Homo sapiens: one gene and its partners. The protein of the gene in region 1 interacts with the protein of each later gene in a pairwise test. Each region holds a gene or a part of one and is shown on either strand. Other genes may lie near its edges.

Region 1 (10,922 bases):
GGAGGATTGCTTGAACCTGGGAGATGGAGGTTGCACTGAGCCAAGATCATGCCAGTGCACTCCAGCCTGGGCAACAGAGTGAGGCTCTGTCTCAAAAAAAAAAAAAAGAGGAACTATCTTTAGGGAATTGAATTATTTATTTATTTTTTATTTATTTTTTATTTTTTGGAGACGAAGTCTCGCTCTTGTCCCCCAGGCTGGAGTGCGATGGCACAATCTTGGCTCACTGCAACTTCCACCTCCAGGTTCAAGCAATTCTTCTGCCTCAGCTTCCCGAATAGCTGGGATTACAGGCGCCTGCCACCACACCTGGCTAATTTTTTTTGTGTTTTTTTTTTTAGTAGAGACGGGGTTTCACCATGTTGGCTAGGCTGGTCTCGAACTCCTGACCTCAGGTGATCCGCCTGCCTCGGTCTCCCAAAATGTTGGGATTACAGGCGTGAGCCACTGCACCCGGCCTATTTTATTATTTTCTTTATTTTTTTATTTTTATTTATTTATTTTTTGAGACGGAGTCTTGCTCTGTCGCCCAGGCTGAAGTGCAGTGGCGCGATCTCGGCTCACTGCAAGCTCCGCCTCCCGGGTTCGCGCCATTCCCCTGCCTCAGCCTCCGGAGCAGCTGGGACTAAAGGCACCCGCCACCGCGCCCGGCTAATTTTTTGTATTTTTTAGTAGAGACAGGGTTTCACCGTGTTAGCCAGGATGGTCTCGATCCTCTGACCTCGTGATCTGCCCTCCTCGGCCTCCCAAAATGCTGGGATTACAGGCGTGAGCCACCGCGCCCGGCCTATTTTCTTTATTTTTTAATTTTTATTTATCTATTTATTTTTTGAGACGGAGTCTCGCTCTGTCACCCAGGCTGGAGTGCCGTGGCGCAATCTCGGCTCACTGCAAGTTCCACCTCCCGGGTTCACGCCATTCTCCTGCCTCAGCCTCCTGAGTAGGTTGGGACCACAGGCGCCCACCACCACGCCTGGCTAATTTTTTGTATTTTTAGTAGAGTTGGGGTTTCACCGCGTTAGGCAGGATGGTCTCGATCTCCTGACCTTGTGATCCTCCCGCCTCGGACTCCCAAAGTGCTAGGATTACAGGTGTGAGCCACCGTACCCGGCCTATTTTATTATTTTCTTTTTGAGACGGAGTCTTGCTCTGTCCTCCAGGCTGGAATGCAATGGCGCGATCTTGGCTCACTGCAACCTCCACCTCCTAGGTTCTAGCGATTCGCCTGCCTCAGCCTCCTGAGTAGCTGGGATTACAGGCGCCTGCCACCACGTCTGGCTAATTTTTTTATTTTTTTAGTAGAGATGGGGTTTCACCATGTTGGTCAGTCTGGTCTCGAGCTCCTGACCTTAGGTGATCCACCTGCCTCGGCCTCCCAAAGTATTGGGATTACAGGCATGAGCCACCGCACCTGGCCTTTTTTTTTTTTTTAATTTTAAAGAGACTAGGCCAGGTGTGGTGGCTCACACCTATAATCCTAACACTTTGGGAGGCCAAGGCAGGAGGATCACTGTGCCCAGAAGTTTAAGACCAGCCTGGGCAACATAGTGAGATCCCCATATCTACAAAAAATAAAATTAGCTGGGCATAGTGGCATGCACCTATGATCTCATCTACTCTAGAGGCTGAGGTGGGAGGATCACTTGAACCCAGGAAGTGGTGGCTGCAGTGAGCCAAGATCACACCACCGCACTCCAGGCTGGGTGACAGAGAGACCCTCTCTCAAAATATATAAATATATAAGTAAATAGATAGATAGATTAGATAGGACAGGTCTATGTTGGCTAGGCTGGTCTTGAACTCCTGACCTCAATCCTTCCACCTCAGCCTCCCGAAGTGTGCAAGCCACGGTGCCCAGCCTAAGGAATTTTAAGTTCTGGTATTGAGGGGAAAACGCCTTTCAAAGTTCCAAAGATATAAAAGTTTTCTTTTAAAATAGTTGTATAGCAGCCTGGCGTGTTGGCTCACACCTATAATCGCAGCACTTTGGGAGGCTGAGGTGGGCGGATCACGAGGTCAAGAGATCGGGACCATCCTGGTCAACATGGTGAAACCCTGTCTCTACTAAAAATACAAAAAAATTAGCTGGGCGTGGTGGCGCACGCCTTTAGTCCCAGCTACTCGGGAGGCTGAGGCAGGAGAATCGCTTGAACCCGGGAGGTGGAGGTTGCAGTGAGCTGAGACCACGCCACTGTACTCCAGCCTGGTGACAGAGCGAGACTCCATCTCAAAAAAAAAAAAAAAAAAAAAGTTGTATAGCTTCTTTCCCTTGGAGAAATTGCCCACAAGGCTTCTCTGATTATTGAATTGAAGAAGCATTATTGGGAGGGGGAAAAAAAAACATGCTTAGGATGTTCTACTGTTTTAAAAAGCATTTTCATATATATCAGCTGGAAGATTCGTTGCTTTTTTTTCTTTTGTTTCGGTAGTTTGGTTAAATATTATACCAGTAGCCACTTCACCTCTTGTCCTAAGTCAGATTTGTCCAGTTCTTTACTTACCTTTCCTTTCAGTAAAGAAGGTAAAAGTTTTCCCACCCTTACTGCAAGATGCAGATGTTCTTTTCAAAAAGACGGATGTTGGCTGGGCGCAGTGGCTCGTGCCTGTATTCCCAGCACTTTAGGAGGCTGAGGCGGGCAGATCATTTAGGTCAGTAGTTCGAGACCAGCCTGGCCAACATGGTTAAATCTCGTCTCTACTAAAAATACAAAAAAATTAGCCGGGTGTGGTGGTGCGCGCACCTGTAATCCCAGCTTCCTGGGAGGCTGAGGCAGGAGAATCGCTTGAACCAGGGAGGCAGAAGTTGCAGTGAGCTGAGACTGCACCACTACACTCCATCCTGGGTGACAGAGGGAGGCTCGACCTCAAAAAAAAAAATACATAAAAAACAAAAAATAAATTAAAAAACACATATACGGCTGTGCACGGTGGCTCATGCCTGTATTCCCAGCACTTTGGAATGCCGAGGTGGGCAGATCACCTGAGGTCAGGAGTTCGAGACCAACCTGGCCAACATGTTGAAACCCCGTCTCTACTAAAAATACAAAAATTAGCCGGGTGTGGTGGCGTGGCGTCAGTAATCCCAGATACTCGGGAGGCTGAAGTGGGAGAATCGCTTGAGCCCGGGAGGTGGAGGTTGCAATGAGCTGATATCCCGCCACTGCACTCCAGCCTGGGCGACAGAGTGACCCCGTCTCAAAACAAAACCACATATACAATGTTCCTTAGTCACGTCTCATAAAAATGATACTTTGTACTGGTGAGGACTTTCTTTCTCTTATTTCTATCTTATATCATGTTATCTCTGCTTTGAAAAACATTGCAATCGACCTAAAATTGACTTTTTATTTGAGTTTCTTCATCTCTCCCACTGGTATGTGAAACACCATAAAGTTTCAAATTTGTGCTAACCCTTCCGTAAGAGTCTTCCTTTTTAAGTAATTTAACTGTCCTGTAACTCTCTGCCTTTATACCAAATGTGCCTTTTTTTAACTTTCAAAGGAACCAATTTGGAGTTGAAAATGAATGAATCTAGAGTTGAAATATCAATTGCAAGCCTTTTACTTTTTTTTTTTTTTTTAAGGAAAATATTTTTCTAAAAGTGTTTTCTTTTTCTTTTTCTTTTTTGGGGACTCTGTCGTGCCAGGTTGAGAAAGTGGCGACTTCTATAAGACATGGATAGATGCAAACATGTAGGGCGGTTACGGCTCGCCCAGGACCACTCCATCCTGAACCCTCAGAAGTGGTGCTGCTTAGAGTGTGCCACCACCGAGTCCGTGTGGGCCTGCCTCAAGTGCTCCCACGTGGCCTGCGGCCGCTATATTGAGGACCACGCCCTGAAACACTTTGAGGAGACGGGACACCCGCTAGCCATGGAAGTCCGGGATCTCTACGTGTTCTGTTACCTGTGCAAGGACTACGTGCTCAATGATAACCCAGAGGGGGACCTGAAGCTGCTAAGAAGCTCCCTCCTGGCGGTCCGGGGCCAGAAACAGGACACGCCGGTGAGACGTGGGCGGACGCTGCGGTCCATGGCTTCGGGTGAGGACGTGGTCCTGCCGCAGCGCGCTCCTCAGGGACAGCCGCAGATGCTCACGGCTCTGTGGTACCGGCGTCAGCGCCTGCTGGCCAGGACGCTGCGGCTGTGGTTCGAGAAGAGCTCCCGGGGCCAGGCGAAGCTGGAGCAGCGGCGGCAGGAGGAGGCCCTGGAGCGCAAGAAGGAGGAGGCGCGGAGGCGGCGGCGCGAGGTGAAACGGCGGCTGCTGGAGGAGCTGGCCAGCACCCCTCCGCGCAAGAGTGCACGGCTGCTCCTGCACACGCCCCGCGACGCGGGCCCGGCTGCCTCGCGCCCCGCCGCCCTCCCTACCTCACGCAGAGTGCCCGCCGCCACACTCAAGCTGCGTCGCCAGCCGGCCATGGCCCCAGGCGTCACGGGCCTGCGCAACCTGGGCAACACCTGCTACATGAACTCCATCCTCCAGGTGCTCAGCCACCTCCAGAAGTTCCGAGAATGTTTCCTCAACCTTGACCCTTCCAAAACGGAACATCTGTTTCCCAAAGCCACCAACGGGAAGACTCAGCTTTCTGGCAAGCCAACCAACAGCTCGGCCACGGAGCTGTCCTTGAGAAATGACAGGGCCGAGGCATGCGAGCGGGAGGGCTTCTGCTGGAACGGCAGGGCCTCCATTAGTCGGAGTCTGGAGCTCATCCAGAACAAGGAGCCGAGTTCAAAGCACATTTCCCTCTGCCGTGAACTGCACACCCTCTTCCGAGTCATGTGGTCCGGGAAGTGGGCCCTAGTGTCGCCCTTCGCCATGCTCCACTCAGTGTGGAGCCTGATCCCTGCCTTCCGCGGCTACGACCAACAGGACGCGCAGGAATTTCTCTGCGAGCTGCTGCACAAGGTGCAGCAGGAACTCGAGTCTGAGGGCACCACACGCCGGATCCTCATCCCCTTCTCCCAGAGGAAGCTCACCAAACAGGTCTTAAAGGTGGTGAATACCATATTTCATGGGCAGCTGCTCAGTCAGGTATGTGTGTGCCTACCATGACAATGAGAGGCTTGTATGTTAGCTTGGGCTTCCTGTGAGTGCCTTCCCCGGGTTATTGGGCTAATAAGAGTAGCCCACATTTGCTGTGATTATGCAATTTGGAGGGTGGCCATTATACCTTTCATTCTGCTGTACATTATGATGGCCTTTTGGGGAAACTTGCCTAGTGTCTTTCCGGCCAGATTTTTAGTTTAACTTGCCACATCGCTTAATTTTCAGTGAATATCTTTAATTGTTATTGAAGATAGGGGTAATATAATATTCTCATTGTTATAATTAAGTACCCATTGTTGGTGTGCCATCCTTTGATCAATTTGAGGGAACAGAGTTTGCTTGTAACCCTGGTTCCATAATAGTTTGAAAGAGCAATCTCCCTTCTTTACATACAGGGAAGGTAGGTAGCTGGGAGCATGCTAAAGGCCAGTGCAAGCCTCCTTCCTGTTCCCCATTACCTTTTATTTCCTGCATCTTTAGCCATGTAACCTAAGCAAAAATGCTTAGACAGGGCCTTGCGAGAATATGCAGAAAGAGTATTTCTATAGTTAAAAAAAGGCAGGTGTGCCGGGCACGGTGGCTCATGCCTGTAATCCCAGCACTTCAGGAGGCCAAGGTGGGTGGATCACCTGAGGTCAGGAGTTAGAGACCAGCCTGGCCAACATGGTGAAACCCTGTCTCTACTAAAAATACAAAATTAGCCGGGCGTGGTGGCGCATGCCTGTAATCCCAGCTACTTGGGAGGCTGAGGCAGGAGAATTGCTTAAGCCCAGGAGGCGGAGGTTGCGGTGAGCCGAGATTGTGCCATTGGCACTACAGCCTGGGTGACAGATGGAGACTGTCTCAAAAAAAACCAAAAAACAAACAAAAAAACGTGGTGGGGGGTGGGTTGGTGAGCAACTTAAGAGTTTCAGGTAAAACCTCTACACTATGTGTCTTGGTTTTTAGGGCTTTGAAAGAATGATGAATGGGATGGAAAGGGAAAGTTTAATTAGGCTTTTGTTTTTGAGCATGTAAAAGGGGGAGTATTTATCAGCACTTCTTCTGTCTCCCCTCCCCTTAGGAAGAAAGGTGCACCTGGGAAGGTTATAGTGGGAATGGAGGTCTAATCACAGCACTTTGAGGCTCTGCAGACAGAGGGGTTCAGTGTAGGGCTTCTGCAAGTAACAAAGGCAAAAAGAGAGGCATGCTGGGCCCCATGGAAGGTCTGAAGTCAAGAGGAGGAATGCCAGGGTGAGGGAAGCAGGCAGGGACCTGCAAATCTGTGTCAGACTGATCCCTTGAGTGACTGCATGATAACTTGCAGTCTGTACTACTGTACTATTGAATGGTAGAGCATATTTTGGGAGAGGTGAAAAGGGGGGTTAGTATAGTCTCTATGCAGTATGGTTTTTAAATTCCAGCTAGCATCCCATAGTTAGAAATGTACATCAGAAATAATATACTCTAATTCTTTTAAAGTTATGTTTATTATTTTAATATTACTATTTTTTGAAAATTATACACTTAGTTTTGATAAAGTGTGTCTTTTATGAAGCAAGTAAAACTGTACACAGGAAGCATGGAAGTTATATAATCTGTAAATCAATCTTTTCATTCTAGGTCACATGTATATCATGCAATTACAAATCCAATACCATTGAGCCCTTTTGGGACCTATCCCTGGAATTCCCTGAACGCTATCACTGCATAGAAAAGGGGTTTGTCCCTTTGAATCAAACAGAGTGCTTGCTCACTGAGATGCTGGCCAAATTCACAGAGACAGAGGCCCTGGAAGGGAGAATCTACGCTTGTGACCAGTGTAACAGTGAGTGCTGTGTGGAGGAGGGGGCGTAGTGGGGAAGAATAATTGGAATATCAGTTTAAGGTGCTGCTTTGTCCTCTTTAGTCAAAAGTAACACTAATGATATTGAATGGTTCTAAAGCATCTTTTAAAGATCTTTTTCTCCCATTTTTCTAAAAACAAAAAACATGGACTTGTTTTAATTATGTATTAAAAAACAAAACAAGGCTGGGCGTTGTGGCTCACGCCTGTAATCCCAGCATTTTGGGAGGCCAAGGCGGACAGATCACTTGAGGTCAGGAGTTTGAGACCAGCCTGACCAACATGGTGAAACCCTGTCTCTACTAAAAATACAAAAATTAGCTGGGCATAGTGGCAGATGCCTGTAATCCCAGCTACTCGGGAGGCTGAGGCAGGAGAATCGGTTGAACCCAGGAAGCGGAGGGTGCAGTGAGCCAAGATTGCGCCATTGCACTCCAGCCTGGGCAACAGAGCAAGACTCCGTTTCAAACAACAACAACAACAACAACAAATGAAACAAAGACCTAGGAGTTGATTGACCTCCTGATTGACATTAGTTGTCATCTTGGAAGGGATTTTAAAGTTGTGGCTCCTGAAATGGGGACTCTGAGAATGTTAGTACTTAGCTTCTTAGTGCTGTGGGGCTGCTGCTTAAATTCATGAATGTAGAGTCTGACAGTTCTTACTTAATCTAAACCCAGATGGTATAGCCTTTCTGAAGGGTGCGATATCAGAAAAGCAAGCTTTTGTACTGAACTGGTAGACTTAATGTCTGTCAAAAGTGATGCTAAAGATTGGTACAGTGGAACCAAGAAAGCAAGTCTTAAGGTGCATTGCTCAGTGGCAGCTTCATGAAATATTTTCTGCATTTTGTTTTTATTGTTCACATGCCTGAAAAGTTCACATTTCAGAGAGGGTCATACGGAAGTATTTCTGTGTTGTCTGTAATTTTAAAATGGAACTCTTACATATGGTTACAGAGGCATGTTATCAGGGTCCTTCCATCTTGCCACACTAACACTTAATGCTTCTGCTAATCCAGTATGGACAGAGGAAATGCAGAACAAATATGTGGATGCTTATGTTTGGGGTTTGTGGCATATATAGATTTGGAAACTAAAAGTATAAAGTTAATGGACTGTGCAGAGACCTAGAAATCAATTTTCAGTCACATAATAGTTTAGATTACCAGTTTTGAAGAAAAAAAAAATCTTAGGCCAGGTGCAGTGGCTCACGCCTGTAATCCCAGGACTTTGGGAGACCCCAAGGTGGGCGCCACTGCACTCCAGCCTGGGTGACAGAGCGAGATGCTGTCTCAAAAAAAAAAAATAAATAAAAAATAAATAAATAAATAAATAAATAAATAAATAAATAAATAAAATAAAATAAAATAAAATAAAAAATAAAATAAAATAAAATAAAATAAATTGTGGGAAACCTGTTCCGCTCTTTGAAGAATCAGAACAAAAATCAAAAGTCAGGCTTGAGGCCAGGTGTAGTGGCTCATACCTGTAATCCCAACACTTTGGGAGGCCAAGGCAGGAGGATTGCCTGAAGCCAGGAGTTTGAGACCAGCCTGGTGGCATAGCAAGACCTCTTTTAGGGAAAATAAAAACAAAAACAAAAACCACAAAGTTATGCTCGATATCATTTTGCCATTTCAAAACAAAATTTGAAATTTTATACCTGGTTAACTATAGACTCACCTATCCTGTTCCATTTTGAGATACAGAGTCAGGTGAATCAAATTGTTTCATTAGAGTAATATTTAAAAAAAAAAAAACAGTGATTCCTGAAGCCTTTTACTTGTAAGGAACAAAAGAATATTAACAGCTTTAACTCCATCATTTTTGGATATGATAGATTAGGCAAGAAATAACTTTTGTTTATCTTTACAAGAAAGGATTGTTCTTTGGTTGTCAGATATGCCAATTTATCAGGATTTCTCTAGGCAAGTACAAATAATGGCAGAGAAGGAAACCTATGGTGAGGGGATGAGATGCATTGATCTGTTGCCTGTGAAGTTTCAAAACTGTCAGTCTTCTACCTGTCTTCCTGGCCAGCTTAATGAAATGGAGACAGAACTGATCAATCTCAGTTGAATCAGTAATTTCTTTTTCTTTGTGAATTTCATTTTAGGGAAACAAAGCCTGACTCTATATTGTCTTCATCTTAGCTCACATACTCCCTCTGCTGAAGGTGGCAGTCACTGCCAGGATTCCTAGCCAGAGCTGCAGTAATTTTCAAAAAAATGGTGAATAGGAATATAAAATAAGGCCAAGCCCCTCTGTGAATTCCATTTCTGTTCATGCCCCCACGTATTGTGACGACTACACCCTGGTAAAAGCTTCTCCTATGGCACACTCATTCTGATGCAGTCTATTATGAGAAGTTACACCTCCACATCCTATTGTCACAGAAAGCTCTGTGATACATCATCTGGCTGTGATTTGCTACCTTTCATGAGTAGTACAGACAGGACTTGGAATCAGATGCCCAGCTGCTCTTCAAACACTGAGCCCATGATATCAACAGCTCAAGACAATTAACAGGGACTGCAGTAGACCACTAATTTTCTACTCTCATCCATTTACCAATTTAATATAACAAAACAGTCATCAGTAAATGGTTACAGGAAAGGCTTCTGATAGAAACTAAGAGAACTCTATTTCCATTATTTATTTGCTGAAATTTAGAAATGCATTTCCTCAAGGCTGGGCACAGTGGGCTCACACCCATAATCCCAACACTTTGGGAGGCCAAGGTGGGAGGACTGCTTGAAGCCAGGACTTCGAGAAATGCATTTCCCCCACAGTTAGAAACAAAATTAGAGACTGATCACTGGTTCTGCTTTGGAGTAGATGAATTTAGCCTACCTGTCAGCTTTGTCCTTGCATGTCCAGCAATGTGCTTTTATCTAGGAAATATGTTTCAAAAACTACGCACAGCATAAAAATATAAAACAGTTTATTTTCTAAATGTTTGAATATGCCATAAGCAAATCATGCTAAAGAAAAAAATGTGTTTAAATACTCTATCATTTAGTAATCTTATCCTTTTTTTCCTAAGCCTGAAAGATATGCATTATTTCCTATTTTACTGGTGAGGAAACTGAGGTTCAGAGTTTTGAATAACTTATCCATTAGCACACAACTAGTTGTGAGCAGGAAGTAGAATTAGGCTTACCTAGTGCAAACAAAAAGCTTTTTAAAATCATATTGTGGGGTATCATAATTGAAGTTATAAGCCATTGTGAAGACATGGAACCTTAACATATGCTTCTACTCTATGTGCTTGCTGCTGCACGTTCCATTATATTCCATTATACGCAAAGTTGCTGATGGCAAAAATTGGAAAGATTTGAGTTGCTTGTAACAGTCGACCCAAATAACAATGACTTAAAATGAGAGATTTTATTGTTCTGTTACATAAAACAAGTCTGAAGGACATTCAGGGCCAGCATGGTGGCTGCATGGTCATCAGTGACCCAAGCTATTTCTGTTTTCTGTTTTACTATCCCATTGCAAGACTTCTGTCTTCAAAGTTACCTTTTGGTCCAGGAGGAATTCCAGCAGTTTCAGATAGTGGGAAGGCCAAAGGGATGTGCCTTACAACTGAGTCAGCCCTGTCTAAGCAGAGTCCCACACAGTCATTCCTTTCATCTTAGCCAGAACTTCCATGGCCACACCATGCAGGCGTGTGAAGCTGGGAAATGCAGTCATAAAGAGTGTCACATTGCGCCCCCCAAAAAATTGAGGTTCAGATACTGAGAAATATGGAGAATGCATATTGAATGGCAAGTCACTGTCTCTGCCATAGCTAGAAAAAACTCCTCACAACCTATGTCTTATACCTTCCCAAACCACATAGGCAAACGACGAAAATCCAATCCCAAACCCCTTGTTCTGAGTGAAGCTAGAAAGCAGTTAATGATCTACAGACTACCTCAGGTTCTCCGGCTGCACCTTAAAAGATTCAGGTGAGCTTGCTGTGGGAGTCCCAGCTGGGTGAGAGCTGTGGGAATAGCTGCTCCAAAGGCTTTGGTGAGGGCAAATGTCTTCTATGGTGTTGGG
Region 2 (10,922 bases), on another chromosome or scaffold:
GTGACCTTGATTATACAACATATGCGGAAGTGTTTCCTGTAACTTACGTGAGTATTTTATCAAATACTTATATATTTGATAAAAGCTAAGTACATAAAGCATAACTCAGTAGATAGAATTCTCTAGTAGTAAGCTAAAGTGCTTCAAGTATTAGTTGTCATATTAATCCAAGAGAAAATTAGATCTGAGACTACCTCGAGGAGTAAACGAACAACTTCTTTAAACCAATACTAGTCAAAATGCAGTCCACGGACCAATGCTGGTTCATGCCCTATTTGATCCAAGTCCACATTAAGTACAGAAATGAAGAGTAAGCATTTAGAAACTTGGGGCAATTTGACATTGCCTCAACATCCAAGTTTCAGTGTCCTTTATAAACTATTGATCCATGACAGATCATGAAACTTTCTAAAAATTGATCCTTTTATCACATAGTCTTTCAAAATATTATTTGCTTCTTTGAAGCTTTGGATAGAAACTTGATAATGTGAAGTTCTCTGCTATGTGGACCTGGTGTGCTTATCTTCTTTGTTGCTGATTTGAGAGCTGAGCTATGTACTATATCTGGAATGCACACAGCAGGCATCCTGCTGCGCAGTTCTGTGTCTAGTTAATAGTATGGAAGTTCAGGACATACCTCCAAAAAAAAAAAAAAGCTAGGATTTTCCTCAGAAAGAATGCAGTATTTTATGTCTTAATATTTGTGGTTAATTTTGTTACTACAGACTATTCTTGTTCAGTCCTGGTATCCAATCACAGTGGCCACAAATTCTAGAGAGCAGAAGAAAATATTGGCCAAATATTTGTTAGAAACTTCTGGTAACTTAGATGGTCTGGAATACAAGTTACATGATTTTGGCTACAGAGGAGTCTCTTCCCAAGAGGTAAGTAACTGAAACCAACCTCATTTAATATAATGTGGATTGTTGGTTAGAGTACCACTGTAAACTTTTGGGGACGTTATTGAGATTGATCTTGGTTCTAAAATTCCAAAGATTCAACCAACAGATACATATTCAGTACCTACTACTGTGTTCAGGGTACATGGGATATGTCCTTCAACAGATGTCCCTGTCCTTTATATATTAGATGGATGGACAGATGGATAGCCAGAAACAGACATAATATATCAGATGTGAAATAATGCCATAAAGAAGCTCAAGGCAGGGTAAGGGAAGAGAGAGTGATGAAAAGTGGGGGTGGGACACTGTTAAATAGGTCTCTTTGAGGAGATAATAGTTGATTTTTTAAAATATTTAGGAAAAACTGAATCTTTGTCATTAGGAACTGTTATGTCTGACAATAAATACTTTCCTAAGAGAAAGACAATTCTTATGGGAGCTATGCTATATTCCTTAAATGTGGTTGGCTGCATCCTGGTATTATTAATGTGGGTTTCTTTCTGTTTTGGATTTTGGTTTATGATTGATTTTCCAGACTGCTGGCATAGGAGCATCTGCTCACTTGGTTAACTTCAAAGGAACAGATACAGTAGCAGGACTTGCTCTAATTAAAAAATATTATGGAACGAAAGATCCTGTTCCAGGCTATTCTGTTCCAGCAGCAGAACACAGGTAAAAAATTCTGTTCATTTTTTAAAACTACTAATTTTTTCACTCTTGTATTTGTAACTCAGTGACATTTTACCTAACTGCAGAGCCAGGTACCTACAGTACATCTTCATGAACTTGAGCAACACAAATTCAGTATTTATACAAAAGTATAAACATTAGTCTTAGAGAGGCAGAGAAATTTTATCCATGCTAGAAGAAACAGTTTAAGAGCTTTTTTCCAATACTTATATTGCCATAGAAGTTTTCTTTTAAGGAATTTTTTTTCAATTACTGTATTGTCATATGTAGGTAGATTTTATTCATTAAATTTAGAAGCACTCACTGTAAGTACCAGCCACTTTTTGCCTTTTCCCTGTCCTCCTACATGACCTTATCTATATTTGCCCTAGAAATTGTCATCTGTACTGTACCTTCAGTTGTAGATGAGAAAGCAGGACCTGTTGAGGAAAGAAAGGGTGTTCAGATTCTTTTTACGCTTCCTTGTCTGCTTTCAGTAAACTATCTCCAGTTACCCAAGAAAGAAATTACAATCTAAACTGCAGCTGCTCTGGTCCTAGAGCTAACTTTATTAAAAGTAAATCAGGTTGTTTTTTTTTTTTTTTTTTTTTTTTTTTTTTTTTTTTGAGACGGAGTCTCGCTCTGTCGCCCAGGCTGGAGTGCAGTGGCGGGATCTCGGCTCACTGCAAGCTCCGCCTCCCAGGTTCACGCCATTCTCCTGCCTCAGCCTCCCAAGTAGCTGGGACTACAGGCGCCCGCCACTACGCCCGGCTAATTTTTTGTATTTTTAGTAGAGACGGGGTTTCACCGTTTTAGTCAGGATGGTCTCGATCTCCTGACCTCGTGATCCGCCTGCCTCGGCCTCCCAAAGTGCTGGGATTACAGGCGTGAGCCACCGCGCCCGGCGTAAATCAGGTTTTTTAAATGTTTGCCAAACCTTATCACTGACTTTTATAACAAAATTATTTACTATAATCATTAGGGAATATTTAAGTTCTGCTAATACTTAAAATTGCAGAGTGCTAAAACCAGCAGTGAGTTTAGAATCAAGCTAAGCTTTATTGTTGCTACTATTTGAGGCATATTAGTTGACTGGTGTTCATATGCAAGGCAGTCTACTGGGTGCAACAAGGGTTAGAAGGATATTTTTAAAAAACTGACCCTATTCTCAGGATGAAAATAATACACTAGTAATAGTCTGCTCTGTTGGTTAACTCCTCGTAAGGAGGTACAATTAAAATGCTGTAGTGTTGCAAGGGAAGGAGAGGAAGAATCATATTCCTTCACTAGCAGGATCAAGAAAGCTTTTATAGAAATATACAAAATCTTCACTTCTTGAAGGATTGGTAAAATTTAATAGCCAACATTGGGCACTTATTCATTCTCTGAGTAAATATTTATTGCATGCTTATCTTGTATCAAGCATTGTGATGAAAGCACAAGAATGAAAGAGGAGGGAGAATGTTTAGAGAATAAGGGCTGAAACACAGATTTTGTAGGGAGCGTAGGGGAGACTGAGAAGACAGGTTCAGGTTAGTAAGGGCGCTCATATTTTGACACTGAATGTTAACTATGTGCACATCATGCTAGCTATTCTAAATCAGGCATTTTCAAATGGAAGCAGGCACTGACATTTTTGAGCAAAGACGTGATGTTATGAGATAAATATCTTAGGGGACTTTTTTATATTTTTATAGCAGGATATCTATCCTATGGATTGAAAAAAGGAAAAATCAGAAGGTAGTCTTTATAGGAAGCTATTCCAGCAGTCTTAAGGTAATGAAGTCCAGACCAAGGTGCTAAATAAATGGAAAGAAATAGGTAAACATGAGCAATGGCTTGGGAGATAAAATTGCTCAAAGTTGGTAATTTGAGTTGGGACTCAGTAGAAAATAGATTCAGCTGACGTTTATGAGCATTGTATTAGTAAGGCCTTGTTGAACACTTTTACATACAACTTTCAAGACTAGGAAACTGGGAAAATAAGAGTGTCTTTAACAAAGTTTTAAGAGTTATTTTTAGTTTGGCCTTAGATGTACATACATCTTTTAAAAATCTAACATAGTATGCACATATTAGACTCTTCGTTGATGGTTATTTCAAAGTAGTAACATCATGATACGGAGGACAAGGATAATATCTTCTTTAGGACTTGTTAAAATGAAAAGGATACTGTATGTGGGCAAGGGATAAAAATCCATTTTATTTTTATGGTCTCATATTGATTGCATTTGTAAAATTTGACTCCTTATATATTCAAATGCCTCACATGTTCTTAATAGAATGTCTTTTAAACAACAGCGTAGTATAGCAAAAAGAGGATTGGACTGAAAGTTGGGAAACCTGGGTGACCTTCCGGCTGACATAGTGGGTGGCCTTGGGCAAGTCACTTATCTCTCTGTTCTTCATTTCTTCCATCCAACCAAACAAAAGGAGGAGCTAAAGTTTTACATCTCCAACATGACAAGGTCATTGATGATAAATGAGCTACTATCTAAATAACTTTAAAATAAGAGAACTCTATAAATTTAGAGGTTTACCACTATTGTATGTATCTTAATAGATGAATCTGCACCTAAAAATATTTAATTACAGAAGCTTTTTTTCTCAAACTTTGGAAAGGTATCAAATTTAATTTGGTGCTTGAAATTAGGATTTATGGCATTGGTAGAATTCATTGATTATTTATGATCTTCATATATCACATACTGTACTAGAAGAATAGAGGTTATGATTGGACTAGACAGAGAGTGCCAGAGCAAGTATCTGTGGGATGCTGAGATGAAGATATTCAACTTTCTATCTAACAAAGTAGATCCAGAGCCTGGAAGAAAAACAGAGGCTAAGATACAGATACTGGAAACCCTCATGCAGGGACTTTTTTTTTTTTTTTTTTTTTAAGCTTTTGAGTGTTTCACACAAGGTATGTTACAGAAGACAAGTGCCTAAGTCAGAACTATGAGAAATATTGCCATCTGACAGGTTAGATTAAAGAAGGAGAGCACAGCATCTGGGAAGACTGAAAAGGGAACCATAGAAATAGGGGAAAAAAGGTGAAACATGGGAGATGTCATTGAAGTCAAGAGAAAGAAAGCATCAGGAAAATTCAGGTGTCATGGAGAAAGCAAGTAAGATGGGGACAGTGAAGTTTGCTAGACATGATACAAGTAGATCGTTAGGTGACTTACTGATACAACGTTATAAGTAGTGACCCCTTAACTGTAGGAGTTAATTCATACGTTGTAAAGTTCTCCAGTATTGGTATTCATTGATCTTAATTCTCTCCTTTTTAAAGAGAAAAGTTGCAGACCTGAATATGAAGAGGAGCTTCTCTTCAGTCATATCTTAATTTTCCATTTAGCCTACAGATGCATGAAGTAGAGAATTGACATCATAGCTACTGGCAGCCTCTGTAGCTGTTAAGAAGAGTGTTCACTAATGAGTTTTATATAAACAGGTTCTCTCTCAATTTTGGATTCGGGTAGTAGTCTTTACAATCTTGAAATGTGCATGCTGCACTACCCCAGGTATACCATTGACAGTATGGGGAAAGGTTCTAAGTCTAGTCCTTTAAAAAAAAAAACACACACACACATTGTATAAAGTGATTATTTCAGACATAAAGTCTGACTCTTCAAACAGTTATGAGTTAAACTTATACCTACTTGGGCTTTATAATAAATGAATGTGCTATCTTTTTATTATTTACTGAGGAGAACAGATTAGAGGCGGACTAGAAAATTAGGGAGAATGACCAATTGCTTGGCATAATTAAATGGTAATTTTCAAAATTAAGTTGTTTGAGATCTTTTAAAATTATTTACATTATATATTAACAAATATTTACACAGGTTGAGCATCCCAAATCCAAAATGCTCCAAAATCTGAAACTTTTTGCTCAAAGGAAATGCTCATTGGAGCATTTCAGATTTCAGAACTGGATTTCAGATTTCAGAACTGGGGATGCTTAACTGATAAGTATAATGCACATATTCCAAAATCTGAAAAAATTTGAAATTCAGAATACTTCTGGTCCCAAGCATTTCAAATAAGCGATACCCAATCTATAATTACATATTGAATACAAATCTATCCCGTAAGAACTGATATTAAGGACATTGCAAAAATCACTATAACCATTCTTATCCAATAGAAACTCTCATACTTTATTTTCCATCTTAATTATGTTTTGCTTAAACTAAGTATTTGAATTCTTATTCCCTGGGCATATATTAATTCGTAGTAGATAATCTGCAAACAAAATACATGACTTCCTATTACTAGCCACTTGAAAATATAACAGGTAGTTGACTATATGTATGTATGGTATAGTATAAATAATTGCCTCTAAGTATAAGATTTTGAAAGGTAAAAAAACAAAATGTATGTCTGTACTATTATTGGTATATAGTTTCAAAAATTCACAGAAGGGAGCCAGGTGCTCTCATTGCCTAACAAAATAATGGAAATATGTATTCATTCTAACATCTTGACATACAGTATAAAGGGCACTCAGCAAGTGCTTTTTAGTTAGACTGATTTTAAATGAGTAGATTCAGGAATACCAGAAAACACACACACACACAGATAATTGGTTGAAAATACGAGGTTAGAAACTTAACCATTGAAGAGGAGTAAGGCTACTTAAAGCGTTAAAAACTAATTGGGTAAGGTATGGTTGACCCAGCTACTTCATTTGCCTTACGATGTATATTCATTAAACTAAGTCACTCACCTTCTCTGTGATGTTGATGGTTTGGTATAGTAAACATGAGATATGATTAAAGGTGATTCAGGGATAGATCAAGTGTCTGCCTAAGTAAATCTGTGTTTTCATTTTTTTTTCTAGTACCATAACAGCTTGGGGGAAAGACCATGAAAAAGATGCTTTTGAACATATTGTAACACAGTTTTCATCAGTGCCTGTATCTGTGGTCAGCGATAGCTATGACATTTATAATGCGTGTGAGAAAATATGGGGTGAAGATCTAAGACATTTAATAGTATCAAGAAGTACACAGGCACCACTAATAATCAGACCTGATTCTGGAAACCCTCTTGACACTGTGTTAAAGGTAAATTTTCATATGTAACTTTATTATTAGAATCCCTCTGTAGGCCAGCTGCATCAATACTACTTTTCATTTATATACACACAATTTCAGAGCTGTGTGGACCAGTCCCCTTTATTTTAGAGTTGCAGCCCAGAGAGAGTAATAGATTTGCCTGAGGTCACACAGTAATAGCACAGAAGGATACCAAGACTTATGGATTGTTTTACTGTCAATTAGACATTTGAATAGATATTTTGTTTTCTGCTTACCTGCAAAATTAATTAACAGCATTGCCATTTTAATTAATCCTATGATTTGGGCACCAAACTTATTTGCAGTTTGTTTCTTTTTCAGCATAAGTCACTGCTAGACCTTTGAAGTTGTTAGCACAGAAGAAATAGGAACAGGGTGATGTGGAATAAAAATAATTCAAAAATACTCTTCAAGTGGAGGTTCTTTAGAAATACTGTTGATTCATAATGTAGCAGTGTTACTTTTTGTTGTTAATGTTCAAGGACTTGGTTTATCTTCTTCAAAAAGTAGTAATAGCAGGCTTATTTGATGCCTACTACTAGAAAAATATTTTAGGTGATTTACATAAGATACGCCATTTAATCTCTACAAAAAAAAACAGTGATAAATATTACTGTCTCTGTTATAGAAGAAAAAAACAGAGGCTTAAAAAGGTTAAAGTAACTTGCTCAAGGTCACACAACATGAAAGATAAGGAGTCAGATATCCAGTGTAGGTCTTTTGGCTGCAGCCTTGCTACTTGACCACACCATTTGTCAGTTAATGAGCAGATGATACTTACCCCTTAAGAAAGGGAAACAGAATTAAGGAGGTCTTTTCTTATTCTATTAAATGATAGGCCAATCTGAAAGTCTTGTCTTAGCCTGCAATATTTGGTTTTAGCAAACTTGATAGGTTTCATGTTTTTACTGTTACGTAATAAAAAATGTACACAGCTAGTTATGAGAAACTGATTTCATCAATGGGGAATTTTCTCTTTGTTAGAATCTTTAATCAGTTTATTTAGGAAAAAGAAATGATTGTTGTGGGAAGAGAATGTATTTCTTTTGTTTATATGACCAAGCTTTCTGAGAAATTTTAATTTGGTGTACAAAACTTTTAGTAGTTAGTGAATGAGTAAGATGATTTGTGTATTGTGCAGTTTGGCTTTAAGAGCAAAGGAGAACTTAGAGACTATGGGTTCTAGATGCTGTGTCTGCCTTTCACAGTTTCTCTGAACTTTGTGATTGAACTGGATTCATATTGGAGTTATATATCAGACAAAAACCAAAGTCATTGGGCACAAGCAGAATAAGTCCAAATTAAAAGTATAATCATGAGTTTGTTAAATAATGCTTTATATACTTCTTTAAAATATACTTATTTAATATTAAGGATTTTTTTTTCCTTGAATCCATATAATTTGAAAGGTCTAAGGGGAAAAACTTGTTTTGAGCCACTTTATGATGTGAATTCACTTCATAGGAAATAACATGCTTGTTTTTAATGTACTTTAACCCTTTAAAGTACACTGGACCAAATTTTAGAGAGCATATACATAGTGTTATAAAATTTTTAAAGTAGTTAATTTTTATATTCTCGATTATCAAAGCAAAATCATTTAACTTTGAAAAGCTCTTATACTTGTTTTCAGCTTTAGTTATTTGTGTTGCATGTGTATTTTTCCATATAGGTTTTGGAGATTTTAGGTAAGAAGTTTCCTGTTACTGAGAACTCAAAGGGTTACAAGTTGCTGCCACCTTATCTTAGAGTTATTCAAGGGGATGGAGTAGATATTAATACCTTACAAGAGGTATGTGTTTTATATTAAAAGTTTCAATAAGGCATTTCTTATAATTAAGTTTGTTTATGTTTGATAAAGAACACAATATAAATACAATTTTAAGTCTTTGTAAGTGTTTATGTTGGTATAAATCTCTGTGCATTGCTTAAAGTTTAGAAATAATAGTAGTTTAAAATACAGAGGTGCCAGCCAAGCCATACTTACTCTTCCAGTTGTCATTGGCCACCCTGAATGATGAATCTAAAGAAGTATCATTGTGAAACAAGGAAATGTCAGTCAAGAAATATTCCTTGGAATATAAAACAAAGCCTTGACTCTGCTGGCATAGGTCTGAGTTTTCATAGACTGGAGCTTCACAAATCTGTAAAACTCATAATATTAATGGGTGCTTTTTCAGAAATTATAGAATAGCTGCCACCTCTTCTAAATTAAGCATTGACTGTCATCAGTATTAGATTTAGCCAGATAGTATAAGTGTTATGCAGGCGTACCTCATTTTATTGTGCTTTGCAAACATTGCATTTTTTTACAAATTGAAGGTTGTGGCCACCCTGTGTTGAGCAAGTCTGTTGGTGCTATTTTTCCAACATGTATTCACTTCATGTCTGTGTGACACATACTGGTAAATTCTCACAATATTTCAGACTTTGTCATTATATCTGTTATGGTGATCTGTGATTAGTGATCTTCGATGTTACTACTGTGATTGTTTTAGGGCACCACAGGGCACACCCAGATAAGGCAGTGAACTTAATTGATAAATACTGTGTGTGTTGTGACTCCTTCACCAGTTACCCATTCCCTTTCTCTGCTCACTTCAAGTTTCCCTATGCCCTGAGACACAACAGTATTTAAATTAGGTCAATTAATAACCCCACAGTGGCCTCTGAGTATTCAAGTGAATGGAAAAGTCACATCCCTCTCATTTTAAATCAAAACCTAGACATGATTAAGTTTAGTGAGGAAGGCATGCTGAAAGCTAAAATAGGCCTCTTAAGGCAAACAGTAGGCCAAGTTGTGAATGCAAAGGAAAAGTTCTTGAAGAAAAATCAAAGTGCTACTCCACTAAGCATATGAATAAGAAAGTGAAACAGCTTTATTGCTGCTAGGGAGAAAGTTTGAATGGTCTGAATAGAAGATCAAAGCAACCACAACATTTCCTTAGGCTAAAGCCTAATCCAGAGCAAGGCCCTCGTTTCAATTCTGTGAAGCCTAAGAGAGGTGATGAAGCTGCAGAAGAAAAATTGGAAGCTAGCAGAGGTTGGTTCCTGTGGTTTAGGGAAAGAAGCCATCTCCATGAGTGCAGAATGAAGCAGCAAGTGCTGATGTAGAAGCTGCTGCAAGTTACCCAGAAGATCTAGCTAAGATCATTGATGCAGGTGACTAAACAGATTGTCAGTGTAGAGGAAACAGCCTTCCATTGGAAGAAGGTGCCGTCTAGGACTTTCATAACTAGAGAGAAGACAACATCTGCTTTGAAAGGACATGCTAACTCTCATTAGTGGATAATGCAGCTGGTCACTTTTAAGTGGAAGCTAGTGCTCATTTATCATTCTGATAATCCTAGGACCCTTAGAATTTGCTGAATCTACTCTGCCTGTGCTTTATAAATGGAACAACAAAGCCTGGATGACAGCATGTCTGTTTACATCATAGTGTACTGAGTATTTTAAGCCCACTGTTGGGACCGACTGCTCAGGAAAAAAAAAAAAAAAAAAGATTGTTTCGAAATATCATTGCAGATGGCATCTGAGATCTGATGGAGATGTACAAAGAGGTTAATGTTGTTTTTCATGCCTGCTAACACAACGTCCGTTCGACAGCCTATCCATCAAAGAGTAATTTCAGATGCTATTATTTAGGAAATATATTCTTGGCCGGGTGTGGTGGCTCACGCCTGTAATCCCACACTTTGGGAGACCGAGACAGGCAGATCACGCAATCAGGAGATCAAGATCATCCTGGCCAACGTGGTGAAACCCCGTCTCTACTAAAAATACAAAAATTAGCTGGGTGGGGCAATGCATGCCTGTAGTCCCAGCTACTCAGGAGGCTGAGGCAGGAGAATTGCTTGAAGGGAGGCAGAGGCTGTAGTGTGCCAAGATCACGCCACTGCACTCCAGCCTGGGCAACAGAGTGAAACTCCGTCTCAAAAAAAAGAAGAAATATATTCTTAAGTCTGTAGCTGAAAGGGTTCACCATTCTAGATGCCATTTAAGAACATCATGCTTCATGGGAGGACGTTAAAATGTCAGCATTAACAGGAGTTTGGAAGAAATTGATTCCAACCTTCACAGATAACTGAGTCTTGATTTGACTTCAAGACTTCAGTGGAGGAAGTAACTACAAATGTGGTAGAAATAGCTAGATAACTAGAAGTGGTGGAGCCTGAAGATCTGACTGAATTGCTGCAGTCTCATGATTAAACTTGAACAGATGAGGATTTGCTTCATATGGGTGGATACAGAAAGTGGTTTCTTG
Region 3 (10,922 bases), on another chromosome or scaffold:
TATATCCCTGGTCCAGCAAGAAGTAGGAAAAATGGGAGTGGACAAAGAAGTTCATCCCTTTTAAAGACGCTTTCTCAAATGTCTCATCTAACAACTTGTACTGATGGTGTTATTGGCCAGAACTTAATCCCATGACCATACCTAATTGCAAAGAATACTGAGAAATGGTCTTTGAGTTTCGTACATACATGAAAGTGTCTATTAAGGTTAGGGAGTTCTGTTATCGAAAAAGGAGGAGAGAATGGATATTGGTTAGAAAACTGGCAGCCTCTACCACACTATGATATCCTACTTCAAATATAGCAAACCTAAAACAAAAATAAAAGAAACAAGAAATGTAAATTTCTGCATCCTCAGGGCTTCTGTTCCCTTTTTTGTTCAAAGGTATCTAGTAACGTATTTCCTGATGCCTCAGAAAATCAAAGAGGCAGGAAGCATGTGTTCTTTAAATAGTTTTTCTTACCAAAATTTCCCCTGTTCCTTACCAACTGAGTTTCCCTAGTCTTTTGTTGGAAATCTGTAAGATTAAGGCAATGTGCTGTACCCTACTTTCATTTTCTTTAGCTGAACCCTGAGACTGGTTTGAGATAAGCCCCTAGCTTTAAACTTTCTCTTTGCCTTTTATCGGTGACTGCCTTATGTGCATTGCCCTTCATCAGTGTATTTTAAGGTAATGAGCCTTATTTTTGAAATCCCTGCTGATTCAGAAATAGTTGCTGGAGGGAGGAAGAGAAGTTGGGAAAACTTAGGAATAAATATTGAAATCTCCCAGGGAGCACATCATTTCTAGCAGAGGGCTCTAGATGGTTTATTTTTGTAAATTGCTGGGGGAACCAAGCTCCTCTTCTTGTTTATTGTTATCGAGGGCTGGCCAGTTGCCTTGTACTACATAGCACTGCATTGAACAAGGTAGACTTGTCTTTGCCTTTGAGAGGACACCACCATCAACCAAACTGGGATGGTTTTTATTAACAAAGGTGTTAAGAACTGTGAAGAGTCAGAGATTTTATCCCACTTGTAAGCTAATGAGTTAGCCTGCCCCAGTTTCACGGATGCTAGTGGAGTATACAAGACACAGAGAAATAAAGGACAATTTATTATGTAGCAGTAGCCAGAATATTAGCATCTTTGCATCAGTTTCCTGAGCCCCAGTTCCTGTGGGGAGACATGAAAAGCTCTATGTGCCTCTTGCACACATAGGAAGTTGCTTTCAAGAGAGGAACCCTAAGCTTAGGAAACCCAAATCTCTTATAATGGCCAGTAAGCATGCCTGTCCTTTGCTTTGGATGCAACACTGTGTTTGTTGTCCACAAACATCCTTGAAAAGATAGTCTGGAATAAAAGCAGTCAGTGCTTTTGCTCTCAAGGCATGCAGAAATTTGAGAGACGCATGGAAAGTTGTCTCCCAAAAAGGGTGTGCTCGTGATTTTGCCTGGGCTTTAGAACACTGAATTTAAATTGGGTTCTTTGTATTTAGTTTACCTGGGATCATTTCATTCTGTTCTTCCGAACCAAAGACAACCCCTCATCCTGATAAGTTACTCAACAAATGCAAAATGTTGCCAAGTAGACTGGTAAGAAAACATAGCTGGTTTAATATAAAAAAGGTAAATCTCTTCCAGGAAAACTATCTTTGTAAGGATCAAGAGCCTTAAAAATGTCTCTATGCTTTGACTTGGTAATTTTACTTCTGGGAATCAAGTCTAAGACATTACCAGTTTTTAAAAGTACATATGTGCACATTGTTCAGTATAATAAAGTATGGTATATTTCCGTGATGAATTGCTATGTATGTGTTAAAAATGAGGTTTCTTTTTTCTAATATTAATGCTATGAGGAAATAAATGTCTGTTGTGTAGTAATTGACCAAAAGTAGAATCAAATTTTGGGGATAAGTTAATATATTTGGAAGATTTATACATCAAATTATAAACAGTGGTTGTAACATTGGTTGGTGAGTTCTCAGTTATTCTCACTTTCTTTAAACTTCTTCTTGAATTATACTAGTAAATATTGGTAATTGGGGGGAGATGTGTTCTTTTTTCTTGTGTTAGTTGCACAAGATAGTTGTGCACAAGTTGGTGGAAGATAGGTGGTAGTATCATTCCGAAAGCACACTACAGTACCCAGTTTTGAAAGTTCATTAATAGATAGCGTAAATAGGAGTGCCTCATTAACATTCCAGCCAGCTTCCACTCTGTGCCTGCAGTAACCTGTGTGCCTGCAACTTCCTAAAAACAGAAAACGCTGAAGGTACCATTTGCCCCTAGCCAGTTACTGTTATCCATTTTCACACTGCTATAAAGAATTGCCAGAGATTGGGTAATTTATAAAGGAAAGAAGTTTAATTGACTCACAGTATCACATGGCTGGGGAGGCCTCAGGAAATACAGTCATGGGGGAAGGCGAAGGAGAAGCAAGTGTCTTCTTCACAAGGCAGCAGGAAAGGGAGAGAGCAGGGGCAACTGCCACTTATAAAACCATCAGTTTTCATGAGAACACACTGACTATCATGAGAACAGCATGGGGGAAACTGCCCCCATGATCCAATCACCTCCCACCATGTCCCTCCCCCGACACTGGAGATTATCATTCGAGATGAAATTTGGGTGGGGACACAAAGCCAAACCATATCACTAGTCTTATGAGATTGATTGTCATATCCTCTGAATCTAGAGGATGTAGAAAGGAGGAAACCAGTATTTTTGTTCATTGAGTATCTTCTGTATACTGGTATTTTATTTAATGTTCATAAAACCCAAAATGTGAGATCTAAATCTATTTTCCCCATTTTACAAATGAGGGCATTTAAATTGAAAGATTAAGTACCAGTCCAGAGTCACTTAGCTGGTACTTGCCAGTGTCTAGATTTCAGCCCGAGTATCCAGACACCAAAATCTCTGCCCTCTCCAGTGTTACCCGTAAACAAGTTTTGAAGTTGTAGTATTTTATTTTATTTTTTTGAGATGGAGTCTTGCTCTGTTGCCAGGCTGCAGTGCAGTGCCGCAATCTCGTCTCACTGCAACCTCCGCCTCTCAGGTTCAAGTGATTCTCCTGCCTCAGCCTCCCAAGTAGCTGGGATTACAGGTTCATGTCACCACTCTCGGCTAATTTTTGTATTTTTAGTAGAGATGGGGTTTCACCATGTTGGCCAGAATGGTCTCTATCTCTTGACCTCGTGATCTGCCCACCTTGGCCTCCCAAAGTGCTGGGATTACAGGCAAAGTTGTAGTTTTTGATTAACTATTGGAAAGCACATTTTGGCTCGTAAGTGTACATTTAAAGCACGTTTTTGAACTTGTGTAAGCAAATAAATTAGGAAGTAGGATCAAAGCAGGGTAGGTGCCTATAAATGAAGGCTTATCTAACCAGGTACATTTCTCAGCATTGAGACACTCACTCAGTCTTGGTTTTGCTTGTGTCTTCTTAATATTCAGATTATAATCCATATCCAGTCAAATATGTTGGAAAACCTGATAAAGACTCTAAAAAATGCTGCAGAAGGAAATTTATCAAAATTTGTGAAAAGACATGTGTTCTCGGAGGAAGTGGTGAGTATGCAAGTGCTGCAGAAATCATTTAAAAGTGAAAGGACACTCTTAAAAATGTCCACTAATTTCTCAATTCTAAAGCTTACCTTAAAGAAATTGCCAAATATGGCAGCTTCTCTGTTGTTCCTGTTTTAAGACTTCCATGTATATGTGCAAAGATTTTTTTTTCTTCCAACAGAATATATCCTCTGAAATTCTAGGAAACTTTTCCCTTTTACCTTATTCTTTTCTCCACATTGTATTCATGGGCCCTGGCTCTCTTTTTCTTCTAGATGACGATTTTACACCTTTTTCCTTTTCCCTCAAGCCTTCAATACCTTCTCCTCACTTTTCACTCTCAGTTGATCACTGTATTTCTTGTTTCTTGGAGAAAATAGAAGTAATCAGAAAAGCATGACTGCTACATAGAGAGCCTCTGGCCCCTTGCCCTATATACCCATGATGACTGGATACATCTCTCACACCAGCCTCTTCAGTCATGCACTGGATCCCATCCTCTCTGACCCACTCCACAGCATCAGTCCAGAAGTTGACTCACTCTTTTGGCTATCATCAGTATCCCCTTCCCTGTGGGTCATTCTTGTCAGCAAACAGTAGGATATAGTATCTCTCATCTTAAAAAATAAAAAGAATCTTCTGTACAAATGAAAAGACAGACCATATGTTTAGATAAGAAGACCTAGCCTCATAAAAACTCAGTTTTTTTCAAGTTACTGTGATAATGTAATATGACTCCAATAAAAATATCACTTTGTTTTTTCTGTAAAGGTTAGTTGAAAGAACAAACAAGACTAGCTAGAAAAACCCTGTGAAAGAGGGGCAGTAAGAGTTGCTAGGTCTAGCAGATATCAAAGCATGTTAAAGTTTCTATAATTCAAACTGTGGCTTAGGACATGAATAGGGCAGCTAATGGGACAGAATAGAAAGTCCGGATACAGACCAAATTGCAGATACAAATTTAGTGTAACATAGAGACAAGCATCTCAAATCAATCTAAGTGGATAGACTAGTAAGAAGTAGTACTAGGATAAGTAGAGAGCCAATAGAAAAAGATACAGTTGTATATATTCTTATACCACAAACCAGGATACATTTCAAATGGATGAGAATTTAAATTTTTAAATTGAAATACACAAGTACTAGATATAAACATTAGTAGATTCTTTAATATCCTGGGAGTGGAAAAACTTAGCTTTCAGTCAAAATCCAAATCAGTAAAAGAAGTGATAAATTTGACTAAATAAAAATGTTAAAACCTGTTTTTTCATGTGGCAAAAAGTCTACAAGCAAAGTCAAGAGGTAAGTAATCAATTTTTAATCATACTGACAAAAGGCTAACTAGCCCTAATATTTCAAGAGCTCTTTTTGAGGCCAGGTGCGGTGGCTCATGCCTATAATCCCAGCACTTTGGGAGGCTGAGGCAGGCGGATCATGAGGTCAGGAGATCGAGACCATCCTGGCCAAAATGTAACCCCGTATCTACTAAAAATATAAAAATTAGCTGGGCGTGGTGGTGCATGCCTGTAGTCCCAGGTACTCAGGAGGCCGAGGCACGAGAATCGTTTGAACTAGGGAGTCGAGATTGCGCCACTGCGCTCCAGCCTGGCGACAGAATGAGACTCCATCTGAAAAAAAAAAAAAAAAAAAAAAAAAAGCTCTTTTTGAAAATTCTGAGAAAAGAACCAACAACCCTGAAGAAAAATGGGTAAGAGATGTGGACAGAATTTACTAAAAATGAATTGTGAATGGCCTTTAAACTTTCGAAAAGATTCTCTTGCCCATATCAAGAAAATGCTAAATAAAACTACCCTATGATATTTCTCTTGAATAGAAATCTGCAAGTTTGCCAGCCAACTTGGTTGGTGAGGCTCTGAGGAAATGGGCGCTATCATCTGAGGAAATGCTGCTACAGCGAATACAGATTGGTACACTACAAATACTTTCACCCTTTGACTCAATCCTCCCACTTCTTGGAGTATATTCTAAAAATATACTGGCAAATATAAAGAAGTTGTATGTACAAGGCTATTTGTTGCAATCCAATTTCTAATAACAGCAGACTGGAAAAAAGCCCAAATTTCCATCACTAGACAACTAGTTGTACAAATTAGGGTCTGTTCGTACAAAGGACAGGAAATGAGGAACAGCTACATCATATACTGCTATGGATTACCATTTATATGGATCACTTAAATATGTTTTTAAGTGACAAAAGTAAGATGCAAATGGGTATGTGTAGTATGCCTTAAGAAGGCGGGACCATATAGTTATTTTTATATATTTATGTTTTTGAAAAACACTACGATAAAAAAAACAAAACTTAAGTGGTTATGTTGATTTCTTTTTCAGATCTTTTTTTATAGAAATACTGCTGTTTTTGTATGTAAATTTTGTAACCTGCAGCTTTACTGACTTTATCAGTCCTAAAGGTTTTTTTGATTGAGTCTTTAGGAACCACAGTTAATTATTATGCATATTTCAAAAATGCCAAAGAAGTATATTTTAATGTTTCACCGCAGAAAAAGACACATTGGTAGATGATGGATAGTTTTGTTAGCTTGACTGAATCTTTCTACAGTATACACATAGATTGAAACATCACATTGAACTTTATAAATATACACAATTATTATTTGACAATTAAAGTAATTGACAAATTATTTTTTAAATTTAATTTTAAAAAATTAAGAAATAAAAGTTTTGAAAGTGAAAGTGAGGGACGGAAACATGAGTTCTCCGAATGTACCTTGTTTATGTATTTCATTTAGGAACCATGTAAATGCTTTGCAGAACTGTAAAGCAGAGTTAAATAAAAATGAAGAGAAAAAACAGTTCCTAAAAATTGAAAGTGAAATGAAACAAATGAACCCATGTGTCACATTGATGGCTTAAGTACACAAATTGGAATTCTTGTAGGTCATTTGAGATGTAGTAATTTGTGTATCTCTCATAGCATGTAACTTAAGGTGAAAAACAGAAGTGTAAAGAAATTGTACGTTATTGACAGTGATCATATTGTTAGTAATAATACTGATATTGTCATTTTGACCAACCAAGTGGCCTGTTGGTTGGTCCTCTCTTCCTCCCTCATTTCTCCTGCCTCTCTTTTATAGTTTGGTCCAGGCTGAAGGCTGAGACAGCAGGATTGGCACTAGAGGGCAGTGGCTGCTTCCTCCTCCTGCCACACTGTCGCCTTCCCAGCCCTGTTCCATTTCCTCACTTCCACCCAAAGGCTTCTTCCTTCTGATAAAAGGGAGCTTGTCAGGAAAATGACTAACTGGATATGGTTGATTTAACGCTTCTTTCTATTTGCAGTTTTAGCTCTGTGTAGGCTGTGATCCACCCAACCCTTTTGGAGTAAGTTTAGAAAAGTAGGGAAAGTAGAAGCATGAACAGATTTTAAAGTGCATAGTCACGTGTGTATGTGTACATGTGAAATCCAACTTCCATTTTCTCAGCAGCATTGTTGTTAACAACCATTCCTTAGACCTGAACCATCAATACATTGTCACCCATTTATATGGCTAAAGCACCCGAACAAACTTTATATTGAAAAATACTCATATAAGACTCTTGTACTTAGAAAATGAACCCTCTAGTTCAGTGTCTTCCCTCTGGTTACTGTGGGACCACTCAAGGAACAGCTTGATGAGAAATGGATTGATTCATATAACTCCAGTAGCTTTTGAGCTAGTTCTAAATATATATGTGTGAGATTGCAAGTGGAGTCCTATATTGTAAACGTCTGCATTTTACAAAGTGCATTTAATGCTTATGCCAGCAGTTATTTAAAAAGTGTTATGTAGGGAGATAAGACTATAAACTATCATAGGTGCTATTATACCACCACAGGACTATTGAAAATAATTGCTGATTTATTTCTGTAGTTATGTAACAGAACTGTTACAGTTTTTAGATCAAAATTACCTCCAGCTTGGCATGTTTGCTCTGCTGCTTTTAGAAGCCATATGCTGCACATTAAGTCATTTTCACCTTGAACATGAGGACTAAACAAGCTATTCTTTTTTAAGAACATTAAGAAGTGCTTAAGCTGCTTGTCTGCAGGCATGGTTGGGAGCCATTGTCTCAAAGGAAGATGTGCAGGTGCAAACAGTGTTATATATTTGGAAGAGGTGGAAGAGGGGCAAAGGATTTATTAGGAAGCTTGATCCCAATTAAATTCCATCAAGAAATGTGTTGAGATTGTACCCTTGATAAGGATTGAACTAAGTAAAATGCTGATTTTATTCAGAAAGCAGCTTCACATTCTCCATTCTAGTTCACCCATTTTGGGGGTTAAATACCATCATATACTTGTGACTCTACTACGTATGCCTCTAGCCCAGACCTCTCCTTCATGCCCCAGACTTGTATATCCAACAACGTTCTAGACATACCCATTTAGATGGTTCACAGCCGTCTCAATCAGGTCCAAACAGAGCTCTTGATTTTCCCTTCCAAATCTCGCCTCCCTGTCTTCTCTATCAGGAAATGATAGCACCCATCATCAAGCTATTAAAGCCCCAATTGAGAAGATAGCTTTGACACCTCCCTTTCCTTCACCCATTCAAAAATAAGTCCTTTCAGTGTAAACTCCAAAATATACCTCACATAAGTGTACTTCTCCTTCTTTTCTGTACCTTTCCCAATCTCAACTACCATTGTTTCTTATCTGGGCTATGGTGTGGGCCTCCAGAATAGTCTCCACATTTCTGTACACTCCAGTTCATTCTCTGCAACTTTTTGAACAGAAATGAGATCATTTCCCACTTTAGATGCTCTGATGGCTTTTTTAGAATAAATTTCAAAAAACTTATTGTGGAATATATATAAAGCCTATGTAATTTGGCCCTGCCTCCTCCTGCTCTAATCATTACATTGAACAAAGTTGATTCCACTGGTATATGACCTCCTTTACTTGGTGTGTTTCATTATATATGATGTGTTATTTGAACCCCCCTTTTTTTATATTAGGTATGATTTTCAAGTACTAATTTTGAATTTTGTGTGTAGCTTTTGGAATCCCTCATAGTAATACTGCTGTCTGTGTGCCCCAGTACCCTGGTTTTCACGATTTTAGGTGTATACCATACTTTTTTTTTTTTTTAAGACTCACTCTGTCGCCAAGGCTGGAGTACAGTGGCACGATCACAGCTCACTGCAGCCTCTGTCTCCTGGGCTTAAGTGATCCTCCCACTACACCAACTAATTTTTAAAAAAATTTTTTTACAGACAAAGTCTCACTGTGTTGCCTAGGCTGGCCTAGAAATCCTGTGCTCAAGCAGTCCTCCTGTCTCAGCGTCCAAAATTGCTTAGATTAAAGCATGGGCCACCTCGCCTGGCCTACCATACATTTTTGTTCATGTCCATTTCTTTTTCTTAGGGTTATAGTAAGAATAAGGAAGAAATCTTGCAGAGATGTAATGATGTGTTCTTGCTTTTTTCCAGCTGGCCAAAGTGAGGGAAAAAGTGAAGGATGTGCCTGCCCTTGTGGCCAAATTTGATGAGATCTATGGGACACTGCACATCACTGGCCAGGTCACCACTGATTCTTTGGATGCTGTGCTCTGCCACACCCCCAGGGACAGGAAATCTCACACGTTGCTATTAAACAAGAGGATGGTCAGCCGTCGCACCTTCCAGCCACTCAGCCAGTCCCTGTTGGCTGAGTAACCCTGGTTTCAGTCCACCTATGGATCTGAGGGGCCTGCTTCTAGTGAGTTATTACCTTTCCTAAGAAGCCAGGTATCGCACTTCAGCAGACAGTGTGCTGACACTTGGTCTTCTCCTGAAATTCCCAAATTCACTGAATGGTACCATGCCGATCTCTGAGAAGTTATGTTGCACCACTGTGAAGGTCTAGATGCAAGCTTGGCTCCCTCAGAAAGGCGCTTCCCTTTTGCATGGCTGAGGATCCTTGAAGGAACCTGGTCAGTCTCCGGTTCAGCTTCCGACACCAGAGTGGAACCCAGTAAGCACCATCAGGAATGAATTTCACTACAAGTGTGGATAACTCTGATTTTCAAAGGAGTAGTTACTTGCAAATTACATCCTTGCTGAATTCAGGAGGTATGAAACCCTATTTTACCATGTTAGAAAACAGCCCAGGATTTTCTCATTGCTCTGCCATCATATATGTCTATGACTTGAGCCCTTATTTTTCCATCTGCAAAACAATAATGCCTATGTGTCTTTGCATATAGATTTGAAATCTTCATTCAAGGTTTAGTAGGATCATATTTTCTCAAAAATAAGAGAAATAAGGTTCATAAGGAAACTTGCTGGGATTGTGGTTGTTTTGTTTTCTCAGCAGCACAAACAAAACCAGAATTTAGCCTTTAGGACTGCTGAGTAAGCCAAATTTAAATGACTACTGCTTTGTTCATGGGTAAGCCATGTGCTTTTCAAAATAAGTGCCACTAAAAACCACATAATGCTTTGGTTTCTATGTGGATAATAAATATTTAGTCCTATAGTTTATCTTATTTGTTAATGATTTTTCTCTCTTGAATGCCTCATATTAAAAAAAAATGTGCCATGAGAGCAGTTCAAAGCTGCTTCATACTTATGGTCTCAAATATAGTATGTGTTGAATTTTACCGTGTCTGGTCACCAGTGAGCAGAAGATACACAGTGACCCCACCTCACTTGCTCCTTTTGTTTCAGAAAGCCCAGAGGGTTGCTCAGACCTCAGGAGCTGTCTGCCAAGATTGCTGCAGACTCTTCATTGCCACCTCCAAAACTAAGACTGTTCACTTGGTTGTTGTTCTAAGGCAAGGATTATAGAGTCAGAAATTGTAGACTAGGAGAAGTCTTCTGAGTCTCCTAATTAATTCCTTCATCTTTCAGGTTAAGGAAACGATCCATGCAAGAGAGGCCCAATCTCAACTGTAGACTGTGTCCCAGTAAGAGAGTCACAGCTTCAGGTGTTTGCTGAATCCAGGTCTGAGATCACAATCCCACCTGAGGACAGGATCCGCATATGAGAGTCGCACATTGGTATAATTGATTTGTGGTAGAGCTGAGATTAGAATCCAGATTCCTAGTCTAGTATCCTTCCCACTGTACCACATTATCTCTTTTCAGAGGGGAAAAAGGAGCAGCTCTTAAGAAACAGAATACTAAGGGCCCCCATTACTGTGTGGCCCTGGGCATCCTCAGTTTCCTCATTTGGTAAATGGGGATAATGGTACCGACCTCTTAGGCTTGGTGTGAGGATGAAATGAGATAGGGAATATAAAGCAAGCAGATAGTGGCTGGCACATAGTACATGCAATATGTTTGAAACTAGTTAAGGAATTATAAAAACAAATGAGTTCTTCCTTCTGCTCAAAAATATTGAATTTCTTGTCCTTGTGCTCTGTGAAACAT

Evidence for each region.
Region 2: the proteins of USP49 (region 1) and NAMPT interact in binary tests that used the Homo sapiens proteins (3 or more experiments, as listed by UniProt).
Region 3: the proteins of USP49 (region 1) and PTCD2 interact in binary tests that used the Homo sapiens proteins (3 or more experiments, as listed by UniProt).

What each region holds. Positions count from the first base shown.
Region 1 is NC_000006.12:41,799,736-41,810,657, reverse strand, and holds part of USP49 (ubiquitin carboxyl-terminal hydrolase 49), read left to right. Parts: intron 1-3,646; 5' UTR 3,647-3,674; coding exon 3,675-5,030; intron 5,031-6,647; coding exon 6,648-6,852; intron 6,853-10,719; coding exon 10,720-10,828; intron 10,829-10,922. UniProt on the Homo sapiens protein: Deubiquitinase that plays a role in several cellular processes including transcriptional regulation, cell cycle progression or innate immunity.
Region 2 is NC_000007.14:106,259,116-106,270,037, reverse strand, and holds part of NAMPT (nicotinamide phosphoribosyltransferase precursor), read left to right. Parts: intron 1-725; coding exon 726-884; intron 885-1,437; coding exon 1,438-1,574; intron 1,575-4,866; coding exon of another isoform or gene 4,867-4,885; exon of another isoform or gene 4,886-6,372; intron 6,373-6,420; coding exon 6,421-6,646; intron 6,647-8,330; coding exon 8,331-8,450; intron 8,451-10,922.
Region 3 is NC_000005.10:72,349,204-72,360,125, forward strand, and holds part of PTCD2 (pentatricopeptide repeat-containing protein 2, mitochondrial), read left to right. Parts: intron 1-3,437; coding exon 3,438-3,551; intron 3,552-8,999; coding exon 9,000-9,224; 3' UTR 9,225-10,922. UniProt on the Homo sapiens protein: Involved in mitochondrial RNA maturation and mitochondrial respiratory chain function.